Linked DNA regions of Homo sapiens. The protein of the gene in region 3 interacts with the protein of the main gene of each other region in a pairwise test. Each region holds a gene or a part of one and is shown on either strand. Other genes may lie near its edges. The genes, in order: FMO2, PNISR and TMEM132D.

What was found.
Region 1: the proteins of TMEM132D (region 3) and FMO2 interact in a two-hybrid assay, tested with the Homo sapiens proteins (one large-scale study listed by BioGRID).
Region 2: the proteins of TMEM132D (region 3) and PNISR interact in a two-hybrid assay, tested with the Homo sapiens proteins (one large-scale study listed by BioGRID).

The regions. Positions count from the first base shown.
Region 1 is NC_000001.11:171,188,298-171,191,954, forward strand, and holds part of FMO2 (flavin-containing monooxygenase 2), read left to right. Parts: intron 1-3,657. UniProt on the Homo sapiens protein: Catalyzes the oxidative metabolism of numerous xenobiotics, including mainly therapeutic drugs and insecticides that contain a soft nucleophile, most commonly nitrogen and sulfur and participates to their bioactivation.
Region 2 is NC_000006.12:99,415,159-99,418,815, forward strand, and holds part of PNISR (arginine/serine-rich protein PNISR), read right to left. Parts: intron 1,271-3,657; 5' UTR 1,191-1,270; intron 590-1,190; exon of another isoform or gene 478-589; intron 1-477.
Region 3 is NC_000012.12:129,897,515-129,901,171, forward strand, and holds part of TMEM132D (transmembrane protein 132D precursor), read right to left. Parts: intron 1-3,657. UniProt on the Homo sapiens protein: Regulate neuronals morphology via inhibition of the WAVE regulatory complex (WCR), a complex that controls F-actin cytoskeletal dynamics.

The DNA.
Region 1 (3,657 bases), on a different chromosome or scaffold from region 3:
TTGCCAGTATCTAAAATTTCAGATTAGAGATAACTTCCTATTCACTAGAAAAACTGGATTAAAACCTGATTAATTAGGCTTTATTGAATATTAAGGGTTAAGTATATAACTGTGGAACTTGTAACAGTATCACATTTCAAATTTCTCTTAAAACTATATCCAATAGAGGAATGTAAACTATTGTCTCCACTCAACGAAGTCAAAGAGTCCAAAGAGTCTCCCTGCAGAGTGAAACATAAAATAAGCAAAATTTCATAGGCTGCCTGCACTACGGCTATGTGAGGGTTTTGGTTACCAGGTGACTGGGAGTTTCCAAGAAGGATGCTGGGAGCCCCATGCTCTTCCCTGGGAAACTTTGCCTTTTCACTACTCTACCATCCAGAAGCAATTTTTTAAATGGGTTATTTATTAATTTTTGTATTTACACAACTCCTACTGGGATTACTTAACATATTTGGTGGTGACAAGTTAACAATAAATAAGTAAATTTAAGAATCCTTGTCCTATACCCAACCCAGACAATAGAGTTCTTCCAGACTCTCCAGCACCCCCTAGTGGCACATATGGACCATGGGACGGGTAGGTAATTAGCATATATTTTTCGTTCTGTTTCCAGCAACGGGAAGCACTTGGCAAGCATCACCTTCTTTTCTTCGCAATACTGCTAGGAAGTATGTATTATGATTATCTTTATTTACATATTAAGAAGAAACAGTTTTCAGATAAAGAATTTGCTCAGGGGAACATAGGTGGCGGGAGAAAAAAAACGAGGGTTTACAATTTCGGAGCTGTCACACTTAATAACCTTGCTGAAGTATTGATAGAGGAAAACATGATCTTCTTTCAGCCGCTAACCTTCTCTGTTTCCTTTATTGTTCCTAATACCTTGTATTCACGTGGGAGTTACCATGTACATTTTTTTTCCTGTGGGTTTTCTTTTAATATTTGGATTTGGATCTCCTCCTTTTCCAGATGTATATGTTTAGTTATTTTAATTTTCATGTAATACTCTCTAGACATATCTCAATCTTGGTTTTCTTCCTCTAAGTTCAATCTGAAATATCACTTTCTCTCTTAAATTTGGCTCCCCCAAGATCCAACATTCCAAACATATTGCCAATGAGTGTATACCTTTTAGCTTGAAAGCAGCAGAAAAAAAGTGGTAAATACCTGAGCCAGGGAACTTAATTAGGGGGTTCTATCAGTGATCAAGGCCAGTGATCAAGGGAGACACCAGCCTAATGAAAGATGACAGAAGATAGCAATACTCTAATAGAGATGTGGTTCACAAAGTTCATTGTGCAGAAGCAGCTAGGGAGAGCTTCTAAAATACAGAAATCTGAGCCCGTCTTTTTTCTTTTCTTTTTTTTTTTTTTTTTGAGATGGAGTCTCGCTCTGTTGCCCAGGCTGGAGGGCAGTAGCGCAATCTCAGCTCACTGCAACCTCCATCCCCCGGGTTCAAGCGATTTAGCTGGGATTACAGCCTTGTGCCACCACACATCTGGACCCATCTTCTAATGCAACTGGTCCACTGACTGGCATTTGGGAATTGCAATTTTGCCTCTAATTGTAGGACAAGGAAGTAAGAAGAGTTTTAATCATATTCAATTCAAGTAATGGAGCAGATAGATGTAAGGTCCATCCGAAAGAGTGAAATGATAGAATCACAGAATATTCTTAAAGAAAGGCAATTTTATTCTTTCTAACTGCTTATGGTAACTACCCATGAAAGCAAAAATATTGATTGGTAAGGGTCAATATAATGATGTTTCACGAAGAAAAAGTTTAATTTGTAAGTTTTTGTAATTCACATTTATAATAAATAAATCTGTTTCTGCTTTATAAATTTCCTCACTTGAGTAGATTAAATATTACCCTTATAATCTTCTTTAAACTTACTGTTTACAACCTTTTTATTGTCATGAAGTCAAACATAAACTTCAATTCAGCTCGTGATCAAAAGATCATAAATTCTAAATAAGTGCTATCTGAATTAACTTGGTTTGCTAGAGTTTTCTGACATTCTGAAAATTCTATATTAGAAGAATTCTTTATTATATGATAATTTATGTTAAACAAATTATAGCAAATTCTACACATAAGGAAATTCAGACTATATTTATGCTTAATTATCCAGGCAGTAGTAGTACTTAAGTAAATATGTGAGTTAAATTTATCTGTTTTGAAAACTGTGCCTCTGTCCTCCTCTTGATTGACAATAAACCCTCTGTCTCCACTTTCACATCTCCAAAGTTCAAGTGCATTTTAATACAATATAACAATAAGCACCATAAAGATATAAACTATGTTTGTACTGTTAGCATCTTATCCCTAAATCCAAGCTCAGGCCCTGGTCAGTTCAAGCATTTGATACATACTTGTCTATTAAATCAACATTAATCATCTCTTCATAACTAGGAAAACTAGGCCAATTTTACCCAGATTTGTCTAAATACACAGATGCCTACTTCAGCAAACTAAATGTAGAAGGAAGCACATATGAAGACAAGGGGGTCTTTTTTAGCTGCTATTTACCAATTAACCCAACAATAAAAGTTTATCACTTGGCTGGGCGCGGTGGCTCACGCCTGTAATCCCAGCACTTTGGGAGGCTGAGGCAGGTGGATCACCTGAGGTCGGGAGTTCGAGACCAGCCTGACCAAAATGGAGAAACCCCACCTCTACTAAAAATACAAAATTAGCTGGGCATGGTGGCGCATACCTGTAATCCCAGCTACTCAGGAGGCTGAGGCAGGAGAATCACTTGAACCCAAGACGGGGAGGTTGCAGTGAGCCGAGATCATGACATTGCACTCCAGCCTGGGCAACAAGAGCAAAATTCTGTCTCAAAAAAAAAAAAGGGATTATCACTTGATCTTCAGAAAAATAGTGAGGTCATTATTGTTTGCTGACAGACTACACAAGTAAAATCTCCCAAAGGCCAGTTTTGCCCTGGCCCTAAGATTACTGTAGGGCCTCAGACATCAAATCAGTTCTTCTCATCACTCAAAATTCCCTTAAAATTGACCTGATAGAGAAGCCAACCACATTTTTAAGCCAAATTGTTGGGTCTTTTAAAAACTAGCATTTTGGCTGTAGTATAACAGTCTTAGTTTAACTGATTCAAAACTATGGCTGGCTTAGTAAATTTAACGCTAGTGGCCAATAATAACAGAAAAGAGATAAATATTCTTAAGTATGTATTTTGAGCCAGGGATTCTGCTAAGTACTTTATTCACTCTCATTAAAGCCTTGAAACAATTGTTGCATGTTTAAGTTATTAATGAGCCCCATTTTACAGAGGAAAATGAGGAAACTGACCTATGTAACTTGCTCATGGTCACAAGCCATTAAAGGTGGCAGAATTAGGATATCAATCCAGTCGGTGTGACTCCAGAACCCTCCTATTTACTCTATACTACTCATAAAATTATTTGGTCTTGGGGCTGGGCGCAGTGGCTCATACCTGTAATCCCAGCACTTTAGGGTGTTGAGGTGGGTGGATTGCTTGAGCTCAGGAGTTTTAGACCTGCCTGGGCAACATGGTAAGACCTCATCTCTACAAAAAAAAAAAAAAAAAAAATACAAAAAATTAGCCGGTGTAGTGGCACGCGCCTGTAGTCCCAGCTACTTGGAAGGTTGAGGTGGGATCACCTG
Region 2 (3,657 bases), on a different chromosome or scaffold from region 3:
TATTAATTCAGGAAACCTTACAAGAAAAGTTGATGAGAAATCAGAAATTCAAAGGTTGCCAAAATATCACCCCTACAGATTATTAGGTGTCTACTATGCTCCCAGAATCACTAAGAATTCTCATCAAAAATGTTTAACTGAGTCCAACTGAGCTTTTGGATTTTACTTCCAATATAAAGCAATTTTAAAGGATAAAGAAATGAGATAAACGGTATTAAATCCAGAAAGTAAGACAGCCTCCAAGACCTGGTTTCTTAACATATAAATAGCATGGAAAAGATGGGAGGGAAGGTACTTTATGTTAATAACTATTAATTTAGGAGATGGTATGGGGGGGAATCATCACACTAGCCCAACTTTTCTGTAAGCTAGTCTGAAAACATTCCTAATAAAAGGTTTAAAAGTCTTACAAGTCTAATATCTTTGTACTTTATTCCAACACTGATACACAACCCTGTTCAAGAACCAGTGACTCACATAACCAGGGCATGGTTTCTTCTTTATTTTTGTATCCCAAGGCTTAGTTCATAGCAGGCATTTAATAAATGTTTACTAAATGAATCCTTCTAGATTGATCCTTTCCTGTATGCTAAAAACAAGATAAAAGCAAGCCTTTGTATTGCAGGATCACAAAAAGTAGGCAAGTTGGATAACAAAAAAAATAGAGATATTAACTCTAATAGGACAATTGGCGATTACAATTCAGGCTTTTAAAGGTTTCCAACTCCAGTCTTCGCAGCATTCCCAGAATGCCATACAGGTATAGTTCTATCTGCGGCAGATACTAATCCCTCAAATGAAGAACACTGTGAGTTATGGGAGGTGTATTTCTTTGTCACCTTGATTTACTTATGAGTCAAATGTACCTGTCTTCAAGTTACACTAATGTAATCAATTACAATGACATTATTAGAATATGGCAAAATAGGCACTACATAGCACAAATGAGGCCAACAACTGGTTTGGGTATCAGTTCCAAGTTAAATATATTTTTTTCTAACCTCTGTTCAGTGTTTCCTTCTTCCTCCCCTTTTTGTCCTGTCCAGTTTCCCAAGTACGCCTTTAGACTCCTTTAAGGCTAAATAGGTTATCAGAGCCCTTGAAAAGTAACTTCGCTTACAACTTTAATTAAGAGTTAACAAATAAATAGGAAACACCAAGAAGACACACCAACTGCTATTTAAACTGACCTCAGAGGTTCACCTTCTGTTTAAAACTTAGGTTGATTCAGACTACAGCTTCGAAGCATAGCAGCAAGATTATGTATGCCCTAGGGGGAAAAAAAGTAGATGTCTGCTTATAGATTATCATGATTCACATAAAAATAAATTCTAGAGATGCAACATAAGTGTGATCATCTCCAAGTTAGTCACTTTTCCTTGCATTAACTTTATAATGGGGAATTATTTTATCATAATAAAATCAAGGAAAAGAGATACACCAGAAATGAAGAGGCAAAGCTTTTTAACATCTTTTTTTCTTTCCAAATCTTTTATTTACTTGAACAATTCCTTCATAATAAAAAACAATGTCAAACAATTTAGAGATTGAGAAAAAAGGAACAACAAACATTTGAAATGAAGATCTCATCCACCTATTATTAACTTAGATGATACAAGGTAATAAAATGTATTAATTTAAATTTTCCTATAGAATTCTATGTTTAGAAATTAACATTAGCAAGGAGAGAACAGTTTGTTCCTGAAATGGTTTAGTTTCCTTTTTATTCAATCAACAGCTTTTTACAGTTGAAAGAAAGACAAATTTATTCATCCTTTTATCTTCAATAAGGTACAAGAAAGCATCTTGCACATAGCAGACACTAAATAAATAATCAGTGTCTAGCTATTACTTTCTGTTTAAAGGCTAATGATGAGGAAGCTGTTAACTTCTACTTATGAGAACCAAAAAGCTTGCTGTGCTTTCCAACGCTTTAACAGCTTATCAGAGTTCAATGCATAATTTTTCTGTCTTAAGTTGTAAACTCATATAATACAGACATTATCAACAGCTCTATAAAGTGCCTACTGAAACTGAAAATGTGCACTTACTAAAACCATTTAAATGATGAAAATGATGTATAATGACTACCTACCATCATTCCCAATCCATAAATTTACTTTTCCAGAAATTACTCTAAATAAAGGTTATTTTTCTTACTCATGTTTAATGGTTGTCATGGACAACTTTTTTAGTTCCCCTTTTAAGTTTTCTGGTCACCACTTGTCACCTAGACTTCAGAGCACAGGCTCTGGTTCAGGATGCCTACCTACATCCGTTCGTTAGTGGTGTGAACATAAGTAAATTATGCTCTAACCCTTGGTTTTCCAATCTGTAAAACAGAAGACCTAAATGTCTATACCCCAAAGGATTATTGTGAGGATTAAATAAGAAACACATAAAAACTAAGCATCAGAAGTTTCAATTCGTGGTGATTAATATCAATACTAGAGCTTTCCCACCATCACTTTTGGTAGCACTCTTCAAGTTAACAACTATTAGGGGGTTTTAAAAAAAAGGTGATCGGCCGAGCGCGGTAGCTCACGTGTGTAATCCCAGCACTTTGGGAGGCCAAGGCAGGTGGATTACCTGAGGTCAGGCATTCAGGACCAGCCTGACCAACATGGTGAAACCCCCGTCTCTACTAAAAAATACAAAAATTAGCCGGGCGTGGCGGCGGGCTCCTGTAATCCCAGCTACTTGGGAGGCTGAGACAGGAGAATTGCTTGAATCTGGGAGGCGGAGGTTGCAGTGAGCCGAGATTGTGCCATTGCACTCTAGCCTGGGCGACAAGAGCGAAACACCATCTCAAAAAAAAAAAAAAAAAAAAAGTGATCAAGCCAACCCACTTCTGCTCAACTCCATTTTCTTTTCCAGAAGCAATCTAAAACTTACAGAGGTTTCACTTTATCTTTGAAAGAATTCTTTAGTCTAAATTTGTCTTCCTGTTTCATGGGTTGAAACTTTTATTGTTATTATTATTATTATATTTTTTTTGAGAGGCAGTCTCGCTCTGTCGCCCAGGCTGGAGTGCAGTGGTGCAGTCTGGGCTCACTGCAACCTCTGCCTCCTGGGTTCAAGCGATTCTCCTGCCTCAGCCTCCTGAGTAGCTGGGATTACAGCTGCTCGCCACCAAGCCTGGCTAATTTTTGTATTTCAGTAGAGACGGGGTTTCACTATGCAGGTCAAGCTGGTCTCGAATTTCTGACCCAAATGATCTACCCACCTCAGCCTCCCAAAGTGCTGGGATTATAGGTGTGAACCACCGCACCCAGCTGAAGCTTTTATTAAAAAAAAAAAAAAAAGTTTTCCTATGAACAGAGGTTTTAATTTGCATATTTTCAAGGGTTTGATTTGTATCACCTATGATCATTTTTCTGTATGTTTAGAACAGCCACTTCTACTTTTGCTATATTTTTAGAAGCTTTTCTTCCCCAAAGTTTTGATGGAAGCTACTATTCAAGTAATATAATGTTTGGGACACTTAGGCTGAGAAAAATAGAAAAAAGATGTGAAATTGGGAAAAACAGAGCAGAATAAAAATACAGTAAAGAAGGTGATGGTAAGTTAAGGAAGTTAGAGGCTATTTATTAAAGCGCTTTAATTAAGTCTGGAGTTGAGAAACTTGATTTAGTTACAGAGGATGACTACTGGATG
Region 3 (3,657 bases):
CTGCAAGTTCTTTAAGAAGCTTGACCTAGGGAGGTGGGGGAGGAGGAAAATAAAAATAAAAAAAACAAAAAAGAAGCTGACCTAGGAGATAACCAAACCATTCCACACCATCAGAGAATCTCTTCTACCTCCCTGGTGGTCTTGGAAGTAAATCCCCATTTTAATCCCTTTCAGGTGTTATTTCTGATTGCTGCTGGAAAAAATAATGCTGAGAAAACTAAATAACATGATGTTCATTTATTCATTTGCTCAACAAATATCAAGGGTCATCTGTATACCAGGCTCTGAGCTAAAAACTAAAATGGTCTCAAGACCTCTCTGCACTCAGCCCCTGGCAAGCCTGGCACCATGTAACAATTCTGCCTGACAAACCGCCTGGTTTTTAGTTATTCCATATAATTATCAGAAGTCAGCAGAATGGCCAGGGGTATGGGTTCTGGCATCAGAATTCAGACTCTGCCTGTCTTTTATGTTGCTATGACTTGGAGAAGTTACTTAACATCTCTGAACTTCAACTTCTGGTCCAGTACATATCTACCCCATTGAGTTTATCTGCAAATTCACAAAAATTATCCTCATAAGTCACTCCGCACAGTGCCTGCCATACAACAATTACTCAAAACATTAGCTGGTATTATTGACCAAAGTATTTCCTGCGGCGCTCTGAATTACTGGAAAAGGCAGCATCAAACCACTGCACTGTCAGGTAAATGATTTCCAGCAATATTTCACACTCTTGGAAGCACAGTTAAAAATTGTATTGAGCCCCTGCAATGTCCAAAGCACAAAGCTAAAAATACTGGAGAGAAATCAGAGATAGAAAAAATACCCATTTTTTTGTCCCCTAGAAGAACTTAAAATTTAGGAGAGGAGGCAGAAAATAGTTGTAGAATGTCAACCTTGTGAAAGGCAGAAGTGCACTCCCCCAAAAGATATTCACATCCAAATCCCTGAAATATGGGAATGTTGGTTACTTTATTTGGAAATGTTAAAAGGCGACGTGACTAAGTCAAGATGGGAGATTATGTGGATCACTTGGGATCCTCCCAGTCCATCCGGTAACGCCAGCCCATCCTTCAGACAAGGCGAGTCTTCCCAGTTACTCTAAGTCAACTGCCAAATTATCTGCATCCAGAGACACTCGCCCCATCCTCCAGAGCACACCCACAGTGCTAACTTTATGTTTTTCTGTGTAATTCACATGTTCCCCTATCTCTCCTACAAATGGCAAGTTCTCTGGGAATAGTAACCATATCAACCTGTGCTTTTCCTCACTACGGTACTCCCTGTGCCCAGCACGGTATGGGGTGCATTGTTGGTGCTCAGAAGGCAGTTACTGTTATGAAATAGGAAAGGAGAGGGAACAAAGGAAGAGGGGAATGATGAATACGAAACTGCCCAGGTCTGAGCTTACAACTTAAAGCAACGGAGTAATGGTATGAGGCACTTTGACATCTAGAGGAATGACTGGCACTAAACATCCCTACCTAAGGACGCTTTAGTACCTGTCCTGTGTCCTCACAACACTTAGAAATAGTTCCTGCTGAGCTCTGTGTTCACTGAAGGCATGTGGCCTTTGACATTTGTTGAATGAATATGCAGATGGATGGAATGATGAATGGATGGATGAAATGATAGATGGATAGATGGAAGGATGGGTGGATAGAAGGATGGAATGATGAATGAATGGATGGATGGGCAGACAGACAGATGGAAGGATGGATGGATGGATGGATGCACGGATGGATGGATGGATGGATGGATGCATGGATGGATGGATGGATGCATGCATGGATGGATGGATGGATGGATGGATGGATGGATGGATGATGGATGGAGGGATGGATGGATGGATGGACTGGTAGATGGATGGGTGGATAATGGATGGATGCATGGATGGATGGATGGATGGATGGATGGATGGGTGGATGGGTAGATGGACTGGTGGATGGACTGGTGGATGGATGGGTAGATGATGGATGGATGGACGGATGAATGAACGGGTGGATGGATGGGTGGATGGGATGATGGGTGAATACATGGGTGGAAAGACGGATAACACCTGGATTAACAGAAAAATTGATAGATAAATTCTAAATATTGTGTAGCATAGCTTCTATAATAAAATATTTTTGAAATTTTTGTTGTTTACTCATTTTTTCTTGGCTCTTAGAATATAACTAAGTTAAACAGATCCTCAAACTTGGAATTCTACCTTTCTATGCACATAAATATTTTTAATAAAATCACATTTTGATTTAACTCTTTAATTCATACAAAACAAAACTTAGTGGTCTCTTCATTCTTTGTCTTTTCAATTTGACAGAATTTGAATGTAAGCAAAAAGCCACACTCTCTCTCTCCCCCACTAACTGGCTCCCTTCTGATATTCTTTCCTCTCCCAAAAAGTTCCTGACCCCTAAAGAAGTTATCACTGTACTTTGAAGCTCTTTTTGGTCCACAGCTTCCTTCAATAAGGGTGGTGCTGTCCTACCCAGAAGCTTCACTCTGACCCAATTAACACCCCAGTGTCATCAAATTGTGTCAAATGGAATTTCATGATGCAGATATTATTTATAAGCTCAGGGACAGTTCAGTTCATGTCGCAATGTATTCATATCACCTCTCCTCTAAGATTCTCTGATCCCTTGAAAGTTCTCACCCAGCTGGAAATCGAATATGAACTATATTTAACAGGATTTTAATTGGAAGTAAACACACAGACACACCACACACAGACAATGCAAAGTGCCTAAACTGTCTGGGGCTGATTGAAAAAGAATATTACCAAGTATTAAACATCCGTTTCAGCATATTATTAGAGGCCAGAAGCTCTACATATGGAAGCAGTTTCAGGAAGGCGCTCCAAGAAGCCCACTGCCCAGGCCATTGGCTGCACTCAGCTGGAAGCAGGCAGAGCACGTGCCCAGCGCCACCCTAGGCACAGGGAGCACGACACTGCCGCAGCCCCGCTCGCAATGTTGCAGGTCTCTCAGCGTCTGCTTCTTTCCTACCAGCATGTGCAAGGGAACATAACTGGGAAGGATGCACGTGAGGACTGTAACAAGCAACCTAAATGTGGCAACCCTCTTGACTTTGTATTTAAAAATCACCTTGCCCTCTGCCCAACTCCAATCTCCTCACCCATTTTTCCTCTCAGCCCACCCTCCATACACCTGCCCCCTCCCATAAAGTTCACAGTAATGCATTAAAGCTCATCTGCAGGCTAGCACCATTGCAAACTACATCAAGCTGCCAGCAAAGCTAGACCTTAAACATTTAAGGCCATTCCCCAGAAAAATTAGGGGCCATAGGACAAGGCTGCTGGGGAAACTCCGTGTGTCATACCATACTTCCTAGGTCCCAGGGGCATAGAAATACAAGCAACAAAACTTTATGTTTATTTGTTTTTAAAAAATATCTACAAGAGGGTGGGTTTGTTCTATAACTAATCATTTTCTGCTTATGAAATATAAACGTGTAAGGCTCAAGCATATTAACCTGGTATTAAAATCTGCCCTTTGTTTCATTCAAAAATTCCTATTTGGAAAGACAATACAGTAGAAATGATAATATGTGGAAACAGATATTTAATACTTGATAATATTCTTTTTCAATCAGCCCCAGACAAATGAGGCACTTTGGGGTATGTGTGTA